Linked DNA regions of Homo sapiens: regions 2 and 3 are each linked to region 1. The links come from fine-mapping of genetic effects on gene expression. A gene starts in region 1. Each other region holds a variant in brackets. All regions are shown on one strand. Distances are from middle to middle.

Region 1 (4,243 bases):
CCCTAGCTCTGGATTGATTGATGACCACCGGCGGCCAATGGCTCTGACACCACGCCATCCTCGGTCGGGCATCACAGCCCCACGTCCCCGACCTCAGCCTCCCGGGCGCGTTGGCATCCCCGAACCCACAGCGCTGAGCCCGAGCCCGGGGCCGCCGCCTCCTCCCTGCTCTACGCCTGGGCGCTGCCAGGTTCCTTCCCTGGAACGGCGGAGAAAGGAAGGGAGGGAGCCAGCGAGCGTTGGAAGGGGGTGTGGAGGCCACGGGATCTCCCCCTCTTCTGACATCTTTTTTCACTTAAACTTTTGTTTGTCCCACCCCCCCGACCTGTTTGTGTTTGTTTGCAGCATCTCAAATCAATTATACATTTTTCATGACCCGCATTTGCACTTAATTTGGGGTGTGTGTGTGAGAGGGGGGTGGTGATGTACTATTATAAATCAACTTCACTGGGGCATCCTTAATTTATTTTCTTGCTGACGGATTCCAACCGGCTCCTGAGCCTCTAGAAAAATGCCCCCTTCACCTCCTAGGCCGCAAAACCCCGGAATTCAAAGGCTTTACAAAGATAACCTTGTTATACGTAAATAGCAAAGAAACTCCTGCCTCTGTAGAGAAGAAATCCGGCGGCAACGGTTACTTTTCCTCGGTACTCGTCCCCCGTCGCCTAGCCTCGACCCCAGCTTGGGTCGCCGGGTCGCTCCGCAGGCTGCGAGCGCGGAGACCCAGGCAGCGGCGGAGAGTGAGGTTGGGGCGCGGGGACGGGGTGAGAAAGAGCCCCGAGCGAGAGCGGCGCGCGCGGGCGGCCCCGGGGGCGGCCGCGGGGCGCAGCCGGAGCACAAAGCTGCGCGGTGCCTTCCCCTCGTCACTGCACCTGGCCTCGGGCCGCCGCGGGAGCCCGGGGATCGGGCCAACACAATGCACCCAGGCCTAGGCCGGGGCGGCTCGAACACATCACCCCGGGACTTTCTAGTAAACAGCTCGCTGAGCCCTCGTCCCCACCCCCATCCCCGCCGCCCGGCTTCCCCAGCTTCTCGCCGATACCCCCTCCTCTCCTCCTAAGAAATCCTGGCGGAGGAGGGAGCGAAGAGGTGGGGACCCCCAGAGGTCGGGGGACTGATGGCTGGAGGGGGTGGAGAAGAGAAGAGGCGCAGGATGGGGAGTCGGAGGGAAGACACCTCCTAAAAAAGAATTTGCTTTCGCTCAGGGGTTGAAAATCAGCCCTCCCCGAGCGCCGAATTGCCCGGGAGGCGCCCGCTCGTGCGGATGTCAGGGGCACCGGGGCAGCCCGGGTCCGCAGCCTCCGAGCCCCTCGCACGCGCCTCTGACAAGGCACCTCTCACCCGGGCTCCGCTTTGTGTGTGCATTTTTTTCCCTTCCTCTAGTGCTCGGCACCGGGCTCCCGGCCGCCTCCTCCCCCTCCCCCGCCCTCCGCCTCCCTTCCCGGGGCGGATTACCTTTCCCGGGCTGCGCTCCGGATCCCGGGGATGCCTTCAGCGCCCGGCGAGCAGGCGATCCATAGCCGAGCGGCCCGAGCCGGCTGGAGGAGCGCTGGGGGCGCGCGGGGGCGGCGAGGGGCGCGAGCGGGCCAGAACCTTCGACCCCGGAGGTCCCGCCGCAGGCTGGGGCTGGGGGCCAGGGGGCGCGGCGCTAGAGGGAGGCGGGGGGAGAAAGGACCCGAGCAGCCTCGATCTGGGGAGAGAGCGAGCGAGGGGGCGAGGAGAGGGAGCGAGGGCGCGGCGAGCCGGAGGGAGAGCGAGCGGTGCAGTGACAGGGACTGCCACTGGGGTCAAAGGAGCACAGCTCCAGGAAGCAGGGCGGCCGAGGCGCCGCTCCGTGCGCGCTCCCCGGCGGGACCCCGCGCCCCTGCACGCCCCTCCCGCAGTCCCTGCCCACTCGGACCCCCACCGGTGCCCCGAAGCCCCAGGGTTTCGAGAGGAGGAGGGAGCCGAGGGCGAGGCCCGGTAGCCTGCTGGTGCTCCCGGGTCAAGCAGGCGGCAGGAAGCTGAGCTGCAAGTTCATCATCATGAGTGCGATCTGCGTAAAAAATGATAGGGGAAGGAAGGCGGGCTACGGTGCCCCAGGAAAAGAAGGGAGCTTTCTCCCAAATGGTGTTCTTCTGCAAAGAGAACACCCAGCTCCCCGCCACCCACCGACCTGCCAGGCTCTGTCAGGAGTCCTGGCACCGTTCCAGGACGCAGGGCTCACCGCAGGGGTAAGGGGAGCGGCTGGGACACTTCGCTCAGACCTAGGAAGGCGACCCTAGGTTCCCTCCCATCTGCTGATCTGAGGCTTTCCTGGGGGAGAGCTGTGCTCCTTTTTCCCCAAGCCTTTCAACACGACAGACACACACACACACACACACGCTCACTCACTCACTCACACACTCACCTCTTTCTCTCTGCAATGTTGCTGAGAAAGAAAAGGCCAACCCAGCTGATCATTTTTTTTACCTCCATGAATTAAGGCAGATTCAGGACAGGAAGGTGAGGAGAGGCAAAGACTCTAATTGTTTCCATTTTCGTCTTTTGGATAAAATTTTCCCCAAAAGATAAGCATGTCAAAAGCATTTTAAAAATCAAACTTAGTCCAGTTTTGTCTGCTACTTTGGAAAATGGAAGAAAAGGTTTTCAGAATTTTGTACAAACAACACAAGGAAAGGAAATGCCGCTGAAATGCTGGAAGACAGAAAACAAGGGAGAGAAGGCTTTTAGAAAACTTGGTTGGCAGGGTTGTCTGTGAAAGATGAGGTGGCCCTGTGATGTTATGCCATTGTCATTGCTGAAAGATTGGGACAGCAACCAGATCTAATTCCTTTCTAGGAGTCAGACTGAAAGATCTGTGCATTCTCTGAAGGGAAATCCAATGTATATATATGTGTGTGAGAGAGAAGTGTGCTAAGTATACTATGTGACAACTGACTAGACATCCTGGCTGAAATTATACCCCCTAAAAATAAAAAGGAGCCATTGCAACCTGGTCTGTGGCCTCTGTGCTGAGACTAATTGGTTTCCAGGGTCTGGGGAGGAAGGGAGAGAGGCTTGTAGGAGCCCCTATAAAAAAAGATCAAACGGAATTCACTTGAAAATATTTCCCTTTTACAATGGGCTTTCCTGGCACTTGAATTTTAAGTAACCCATCTCTTATGCCTAGGCTGAAATGAAAAGGGAAATGGTCTTACTAATGTATTTATTTTATTTTACAGCATGCCCAGAGTGTCAGTGCTTGTCAAATGTGCTGGGGTGGAAAGGACAGTGTCTTTCCTTGCCCAGCACAAATCAGAACAAGTGACATTGACATTAAAGGATGCCAAAGATGGGGGCATAGAGGCACCTTTAAATTTTGTTTTCTTTTGTTTTCTAGCCCATCAGCGAACACTGACTAGAATCACGTTTTTGAAGAAATGCTTGGTTTTGTTTCCTTTACTCTGTGACTGAGTACTACATTCCTCATATCTTAATAGTTTGAATTTTTAGACTGATTTGGGCTGATTTAATCAGTTCAAAAAAAAAAAAGCATCACCAGCCAAATAATTTCTGTGGTTTCCTTCTTTAAAAAAAATTGCAGTCAAACAAAACAGACAAACTAGTTTGAACATGATTCTGAATCTAAATATGTGCACCCAGACAGTAAATAATAATGCTTTCTACTTTAGTGGTACATTTTACAGGATACTTAATGCCATAAAAAATCAAGTGGGTTATCCATTACAAAGTTGATGGAAATTTGTATACCATTTTACTGAGTGGGGAAAATTGAGGTAAAAAGGCTTAAAATTGTAATTTGTAGTGCTGGAAGAAGTCAACCTGCTGATAGATCAATTATCCAATAGTGACCAAGTTATATTTGGATTATGAAATTTTATTTTCATTAGGCTACTAGCAAGCTGGAGATATGAAAATGAATTTAAATAATAAACCAGGAACAAAAAGACACTCACTTTTCAAATAATTCTCTTTACGTGGATTTGAACATATTGCATTTTGTTAAATCATATTGTCTACAAATACAGCTACCTACACTAAAAGCTTAATTTAAAATTATTGGATGTGAACCATGTCTATCCCATCTCCCATATAAGCTTTGAAATGTTACCTCATTATATCAAATTTTAAATCCTATAAGCTTCAGCTTTTTTTTAAAGATAAGTGAGTCTATAAGTTCCATTTTCGTTGTTGTTGTTAAATTCAACTTTTATTGTGTATAATGGAAAAGAAAAGAAGGATGAAAATCAAATACTAAGTT
Region 2 (4,243 bases), 37 kb before region 1:
TGTTAGAGCTCTGATAGAAGCTTTATTACTACTAACAATCACGCCTAATATTTAGCAGTATTTACTATGTGCCAGGGGCTTTTTCTAAATTATTACCTTTAATCTTCTCAAAATCTCTGTGTGATGTTTGTGTATGGCTATGTGTGTGTGATATTCTGAATTCTCCAAACTTCACTTAAGGTCAAACATTAAGCTTGGAAGTTAGAATCTGGATTCTGGCCTATCTAAACCATGAGCCTATGTTCTTTGTATTGTATAACTTTGTAACTTATAGATAATGAAAAGCAATGCAAATAATTTTTGTCTACAGATGCAAATAAATTATGTCCAGTGGAGGTTCAATCGACTTCCCCTCCACTTTTGATCCATTTGCAAATTAATTTCAGCATTTTTTTATTCCATATAAATTCATGGTTCTACAAATCTGTTACAACAACTTTCTTGGTTCCCTCATTCATTAACAACCTAAGTAAATTTTCTGACAGGTGTTTGCATATCTGTATTTGAGTCAATTTTAAAAAAAATATTCTTTTGCAGAGGTTACGAAGATGCCATTTTTACTATCTTGAACCTCACACTTTCATTTGGGAGGGCATACATACCAAACTGTAATCAATGTGACCACAAATTATATATACCTATGTACATACTGGGGAGGGAGAATGGAGAAAGAATAAAGTGATTAAGAGGTCACTTCAGCAAACAGTGAGGTCACTTACAGAATCCACAAGACCTGGCTTTGGACCATGGCTTTCCCACTACCTGGGTATGACACTCTGGACAAGTTTACTAAACCTCTCAAAGCTTCATTTACCTCATCTATAAACTAGGGATAATAATAGTACTTGCCTCATAAGATTGACTATCAACACAAAAATTAAGTAACTATCTTTTTTTTTTCTTAACTGACGGGGTCTCTCTCTCTCCCAGCCTGGAGTGTAAAGGTGCGATCATAGCTCACTGCAGCCTTGAACTCCTGGGTTCCAGGGATTCTCCCACCTCAGTCTCCCAAGTAGCTGGGACTACAGGCATGTGCCACCACACCCAGCTTGTTTTTATTTTCTGATTTTTTGTACAGACAGGGACTTGCTATGTTGCCCAGGCTGGTCTCCAATTCTTGGCCTCAAGTGATTCTCCCACCTTGGTCTCCCAAAGCACTGGGATTACAGGTGTTAGCCACCATGCCCAGCTTAAGTAACTATTGCTTGTAAAGGGCCCAGTGCATATCGAATGCTCAGTAAGTGTTAGCCATCATTATTGAGATTCTTCTATGAGAAATATTGATGAAAGAAATTAGTTCTATTTAAAAATGGGTAGATCTTCACAAAAGAAGGTGCATTTTACCTGGGACTTGAAAGGTTAGGTCACCAAGCAAAGAACTGGAGTAATGTCATTAGACATAAAAGAAACAATTTAAATTGAAGAGGGAGAGAGTCATGAAAGGATCAACAAAGGTGAGTCATAGTGCCAAATTTACAAAGAGGTTAATTCCCAGGGGGACACTGCGTTTGTCAGGTGACCTGAATTTTTCTAAATTTGTTAAAGCTTGTGCCTCTCTACTTCACAGTTGTATGAAGATTACTAAAGCCAAATAGGAATGCATTATCCAGGTACCAATTTACATAAAAATCTAGACACCAAATCATCATGACTACAGTTGTGACTACTCACCAGTTCAAATACCCTTCAGGAATAAGTGGTTATTTTATTCTAAACTTTATAAGCAACAAAAAAATATGAGTTCAAAGTACAAACCACATTTTATACAGATCGAACTTTATACAACATACTTTAACAGTTAGCTCCCATTCAGTGTGTACGCATATGCATCCCTATACACACATGAAAATAACACACAAAGCCAATTACATCCTTGCTCTTATCCTGGACGTAACTGCTTTCTTTCTGTACCTGGTTATATGTCATTTCTACATTTTATTAGTCTTGTTATGGTTCACATCAAAATTTCCCCTGCTCTATTTCCAATCAATTGCTTTCTTGGATACTTTGGACAGGAGAATAAACTTCAGATAATTCTCAATTCTGTGTCAACATTTGCTAAAAGTTTACTAGAAACTCTTAATGCACCATGTTTGCATAATCCCATCTGTTTGCTCCTTTTTATTCCTTCATATGCTCAAGTGAATGCTAAACTGTAAAAGGCCCACTATCTATACATATGAGTTCTACAAAGTTGCCTACTGTAGAGACTTGCAGGTCTCCTATAACTCAGGAATATCAACTGTCTCTGTTAAGAGCAATGATGGATAAGATGGAAAAGATTTAACTTTCAATTTTGGGCAGGAAGATTACTTCCTCAAAAAGCCTTCTCCTAAAAACAAAAACAAAAACCTCACAGGTACTCCCTGTGCCCTACTATTAGAGCTCATCCCAGCTCTAGTCTCTGGAGGTTCTGCCCTGTGATTGTTTCAAGCTCTCTTCCTCATGAAGAGGTGCACACGTGACTGCCG[C/T]CATCGATAAAGGCTGAAGTGAGTGTACTTAGCTAAAGGGCATTGCAATAATTTTTCTCTTCCACGTGAGAAAGTTAGCCTTGAAAATTCTCTGGCTCACTGCTTGTTTTTAAATCATCTTTTGGGGAGGGGTGGCCAAGGGGGCATGTTAAGTTCAAATCAGCCCCTCTTCCCACTCCCATATCAATTGCTTTTTTAAAATAATAATAAGATAGTAGCACCTATCAAGCCTTCAGATTTGCTTTGAAGACAGTGCTAATGACTCAACATTTTAATGGGCAATGCCCCCCAATGTCCATTGTAGGAAAGCAGTCCTCGCTGATAGATTAAATTTGATTAGCACTGGGGCTGGCGCTGTTCCGTGGAGGCAATGTGATTCCTGTAGGAATCTAGGGTGAATGGTAGCCTGAGAAACAGTCAGTGAAAAGATTTATAATCTCCAACAACAAATCAGCCCCTGGTTCCAAAGAAATCATTGTGTCTTTCCCACCCCTGCTGTAGCATGTCATCTATACTAGGAAACACACTGAGTATCTTGAACCCATTTCAATGACTGCAGCAGGACTAGAATATAATTTTTCTTTGTTTGCCCTGACTCTTAAATGTTTGCTTCCAGAGCCAAAGCCCGTCAGTACTCCCATTATGGCCTTGCAGAGGGGATGTGAGAATAGTCAGGAATTTTGATGGGAGTTTACCACAGCAAAACTTCCCAGAGCACTGGTGGCAATTTAGGAAGCAGGTAATTTTTAAAAGCACTTGGCCTGAAGGGTATGGACAAGTTCACACACACATTTGATGTTTCCACGGCTTGCACGGCTGAAGAAATGAGCTATTTCCATTCTCCTCTCATTCCGGAGTGAAAGAGTAAAACCTCAGCCAGGTCTGTCCGGGACACTTTACTAACCAGAAAGCACAGCCTGGGGAAAAAATGCAATAAAATCTCCCGCCAGGTCCAGTTCAGGCCCCTTCATGATGAGAGGCCAAACATCAGGAAAATTTGGTAGCAGTAATGCTGGGTTTCTGAGTTACAGTGTTTTCTCACAAGTGATTGAGTATAATTCACTCAACTTGTTCTATGCAAACTGGACTTGTGTTTAAGTCCCAGTTAGGACTTAAACCCAAAGAAAGTTAACTACTTTGCCCCTCTGACCTGCCTGCTATTCCCTTCCATCTTTATCATGTATATTGGTAGAATCTTTCATACTTTTTCAAAAAGTTGACTCATACATAATTTCAATTCATTCTCATCTTATCAGTAAAAAGGGCATTGTAATTATTCCCATTGGAGTCTAAGAACAAGAAGGGTTGAGTGACTTGTTCATGGCCAATGTTAGCAGCAGAACTGGATCCACACTCTATACTTCCTAACCCCCAGTAATAAAAATAATCACTAACATCAATGAACACTATTCCCACGCTTAGGCACCATGCCAAGCACTTTATGAACATTACCTCATCCATTCCTTGAGAGAACCCTATAAGGTAGGTATTATTAATCCCATTTTACAGATGAGAAATACTGGACTTACAAGGTTACATAATTTCCCCATAGTCAGAGATGCTATAAATCATGAGGCCTCTGTTATAAGAGGAATAGAATTCCTCAGCTTACCTATAGTCCCTCCCTGTCCAATGCTTTTGTCTACACAAACTCAATGCTAAGTTGAAAAATTGTAAGTTTTCTCCTGATTTCAAATAAATTCCTTTTAAAATATCTAATAAATTTATGAATTCTAGTTTGGTCCATTTTGATACTGTCAAAAAGAAAACAC
Region 3 (4,243 bases), 160 kb before region 1:
TTCTGTCTTGGTGGACAGGTGAGGCAGATTTTGGACATGACTTGGTGCTTACATAAGTGGCTCTTTGTTTTGCTGCTGCAGAAATCAAAGGACAAGGTACCAGGGTGCCTTCAGTTAAAACAAGGGCTGGTCCTGCTCAGCCCTGGGACCCTGAGGAGAGGAAACGCGGTGAACTTAGCAGCCCCCAGTGGGACCTGCACTAATGTCCAATCCTCAGCAGTGAGAATTCTTCAAAGAGGAATCTCACAGTTCCCATCATCCAGGTTTGAAAGAAAAAGGGAGGCTTAACAGATGGAGAGAAGTAGACGTAAAGAAAAGGGATATTTGTCTTCTCTTTTCCTTTTTTCATGGCAGTCTTTTTATTGTGGTAAAATATACATAACACAAAATTTACCATTTTAACCACTTTTAAGCTATAATTCAGTAGCAGTAAGTATTAGGTTGGTGCAAAAGTAACTGCGGTTTTTGCCATTACTTCCGATTACTTTCACCACCACTATCCATCTCCAAATTCTTGTCATCATCCTAAATAGAAGGTCTATACACATTTAACACTAACTCCTCCATTCCTTCTCCCCCAGTCCCTAGTAACCACTATTATACTTTGTCTCTATGAATTCAACGATTCTAGGTACTTCATGTAAGTGGAATCAGATAGTAATAGTCCTTTTGTGTCTGGCTTATTTCACCCTGCATAATGTTGTCAAGGTTCTTCCATACTGTAGCATGTGTTAGAAATTCATTCCTTTTTACAGCTGAATGATATGCCATTGTGTGGGTATGCAGAATTCATTTTTTTTATCTAAGAAGGTTTCTGAATGCTCAGTAGGTGCCAGGCACTAAGCTTGACCACAGGGAGACCCGGATAATAAGTCCCAGTCCCTTTCTTTGTGAAGTGCACAGTTACTGGATTGAAAGCCCAGTGAGGATGGGCTCAGTAAGGTACCTCCCAGGGTATACACTCATTCAACAGACATCACCTGGATGCCTATAATGAGCCAGGCTCTAGCATGGCAGGTGCTGAGAAAATGAAATTGAATACAGTTTCCAGAACAAATCCATAGCCAGCCAGTTCATAGGTAGCAGTGCCCTGGACAGAAGTCTTTAAACTTTGGCCTTCTTTTTTAAATAACCTAATTTCAGAGGAGCTTGGGGAACATCAGAATGATGTGAAAATTAATCCAGCAGTTCCAAATGCAGACAGGCCCTGAGGCCAGGAGGTGACCTGGGGCATCTGTGACAGGACTGGTGTGAGCGGGAGGGAGGTCCTTCCGTTTCCTCCTATACATTCCATAATAAGGCCCTGCAGCTGAAACCAGGACCACAACACACAAAAACCCACATCCTACCAGAGACTGAGCCTGCAAGGGTGGCGTGTGTCACATGCCTGGCTGGCTCCAGAGCACAGGACGAACAGGACAGGGGAGGAGGTAGGAAGACTGCCAAGTACTCAGGAAACTCACAGAGAATACCTGTGCCTCCTCTTCCCCATCCTACCCTTTAGACATGTCACGGCAACCAGGCAGGTAGATTGTTTTTCTAACTTAGATTTCCCAACAAAATAAGAAAAAGAGGAAAGGTAGGTTCGGGAGTAGCTGGATTTTGTCTTGTTACATAGCGAACTCTCAAGAATTGATGTTAATAAACAAGTAGGAACTGATGAAATCTCTGCCCCCAAATACAGGAGAATTCACAATTTTATTACGTTTGATTTCATTTACAATGAGTGTGTGTGTTGTCACACATTTATGTTGCTAATACTGGTTTCTTTTGTATGCTATTTAATATTCTAGGGCATTATCAAGGGGATATACAGTTGGGGAGCATTTTACTAGCAAGAAAGCCTGCTACCTGCAAAATAGACCCAAAGGGGACAATTGATAAGTGGACAATAAAATACCATACAGCCATTAAACATAAGGTCAATTGGAAACTCAATGAGTCTGGCTCACTACTGTGTCCCCATCACCTGGCACAGAGAAGATGTGTATTTGTCAGCTGAATTAAGAATGAATGTTCATGAAGAGTTTGTAAGTTCATGAGAAAATTCCTTGATGGTCAGTGGAAAAGTAAAGTATTACCTTTCGTGTATCAGTATGAATTCAAACATGTAAAAAATGCTTTGAAGAAAAAGAAACAGACGGACATGCCTAATGGTTAGGTTATCTCTGGGGGTGAAG[G/A]GAGAGGGGAAAGATTATGGGTGATGTGAATTTTTTTCCCTTTCTATTTCTTTTTTTATTTAACTTTTTCTATAATGACTATATATCATTTGGAAGAAAAATTATTCAATGTAAAACTCTCCAGATGGCTAAATGCAAGTGGAGCATGGATGGAAGAATTTGGAGAATTCAACATCTACTTCGACTCTACTTTTTCTAAGGTGGTTTCTTCCCTAGCTACATCCCATTAATGCCCTAGAATATTAAGGGGGTAGGGAAATTAGTGGGTGTGGGGACTTTTGCTCAGGAAGCTGACATACGGCCTGCCTTCTTTCTCTTTACCACCCATTTCCATATGTGGCAATAAAAAAGCATCTTCAGCAAAGGAAGTCTTAAATTCATTCATGGAATGAATATAAGCCACATTATTGAGCACCTGCTTAGTGCCAGACATCACTCTGTTGCTGGTATATATCTCTCATCTGACTGAGAAATTTCAGTTTAAATGCACACAACATTATATATCTGTATACCACTTTGCTGCTTACAAATAATTCTCACATTTATCAGTTTACCAAGAGGTGAGCAAAGTATTAATTTTGGGAAAAACAGTCTACATAAATAGGATTTTGGGGGCCAGGCATGGTGGCTCATGATTGTAGTCCCAGCTACTTGAGAGGCTGAGGTGGGAGGATCCCTTGAGCCCAGGAGTTTGAAGATGCAGTGAGCTCTGATACACCACTGCACTCCAGCCTTGGCTGTCTCTAAAAATAAAAAATAAATAGAAGTTGTAGCGACTTGTCTAAGGTCATCTAAGCTAAGTTGGCATGAACCAGAACTTTGTAGTGCAATGATTAAGTTAAGAGGGTTAGAAGTTAGGTCTGGATTCAAATTCCAGCTGCTTTCTACTTAGCAATATGACCTTGGACAAGTTCATCTGTTTGATCTCAGTTTTCTCATCTATAAAACGGAGATAAAAATAGCAACCATACACGTATGTTGTGCAGATTAAATGTGATAATATATGTAATACATTTAGCAGACAGCCTGCCTATATAGATTAAAAATTAAATGGTGACTCTTATCATCATCATTATGAATGTTAATATCATTATAGATATTAATATCACCAACCCTTTGGTTTTTGTTCCCTAACTTATCTTCTCCATACTTCATATGACCTCCAAGTTTACCTTTTCTCTACTTTTCAGATGTAGGATGTGGATACCAAAGAATTGAGTAGATCTGTCACAAAGCAATGGAAGATGACATTTGATATGGGTGGGCCAACTGCGAATAAAAAGAAGACGTTCACTTGGGAGATAGAAAAGAGAAGTTCTAGTCATGACTTTTCCAATTTACTTGCTATATAACCTTGAATAAGTACCCTCTCTGAATTCCTGTCTCCTTACCTGTGGAATGAAGACAAAAATTCCTAAGGCTCTAGCAAGATTGTCAAACAAAGGCCTATATGTGTGAGTTGCAAATAAAAGGAAAGCACCTTCTGATAAGTGTCTTCTAATTCCCATGTCATTTCTTGTCCCTGTGGCCTGTTTGTGCTGTTTGAAAGCTCGGGGGAATTGGAATAAGTGACAAGGAGGTCAGATGTAAGTTAAAGTGTTAGCCCCCATTTATCTACCATTTTGGCTCTAAACGACTAGTTTCAGTCCAGACCGATTTAGTAAAGTGAGAAAACTGTGACTGCAAACTGGCAGTACACACAATCAGAGGAATGAGTAAAAAGCTTAGACTGCCCTTCAATTCAGAGGTTAAAGCAAGCACACAGACCCGGTGTCTCCCTCACTGTGTGCCAGCCAACCATATATTATTAATTGGGCTCAACAAACATTATTGAGCACCTTCTACTGCAAAACTCTGGCAGGGCGCTCTGGGGAGATCTAAATGCAATGTGAGGCAATGCCCCACTCTTCACCAACCTGCCATCTGGTTGGGATAACAAGATCATCACAGGCAAAACTGTTCTCCCATATCTCTGCCCATTAAAATTTCACTGAGCCCTCAAGGCTCAATTCATAATTAGATTTTCCCCAAGAAGCTTTCCCCAATCCCCTCAGCCCTTTGTT

Which allele goes with the higher level. Positions count from the first base shown, and alleles are read on the strand shown. Sizes are in standard deviations (SD) of each study's normalised expression. Not every link is listed here.
With allele G in place of A in region 3, the expression in esophagus muscle of the gene that starts at base 1,767 in region 1 is lower (large effect, 0.85 SD a copy in GTEx).

Evidence for each region. PIP is the estimated chance that this variant, and not a neighbour inherited with it, causes the effect.
Region 2: its variant is fine-mapped to the expression of MPPED2 in adrenal gland (GTEx, PIP above 0.99).
Region 3: its variant is fine-mapped to the expression of MPPED2 in esophagus muscle (GTEx, PIP above 0.99).

The regions. Positions count from the first base shown.
Region 1 is chr11:30,584,587-30,588,829 of GRCh38, forward strand. It overlaps MPPED2 (metallophosphoesterase domain containing 2), which reads right to left and starts at 1,767. Exons shown (of 7, transcript NM_001584.3): 1 at 1,456-1,767. The region is part of intron 1 of MPPED2-AS1 (MPPED2 antisense RNA 1); the gene reads left to right. RefSeq lists a silencer at 1,672-1,721.
Region 2 is chr11:30,547,329-30,551,571 of GRCh38, forward strand. The region is part of intron 2 of MPPED2 (metallophosphoesterase domain containing 2); the gene reads right to left. Among named protein-coding and RNA genes, the nearest start is that of MPPED2-AS1, 35 kb to the right of the region's middle. RefSeq lists an enhancer at 1-136. The variant C/T (reference allele first, on the strand shown) is at 2,472.
Region 3 is chr11:30,425,599-30,429,841 of GRCh38, forward strand. All of the region lies in intron 4 of MPPED2 (metallophosphoesterase domain containing 2), which reads right to left. Among named protein-coding and RNA genes, the nearest start is that of ARL14EP, 100 kb to the left of the region's middle. The variant G/A (reference allele first, on the strand shown) is at 2,181.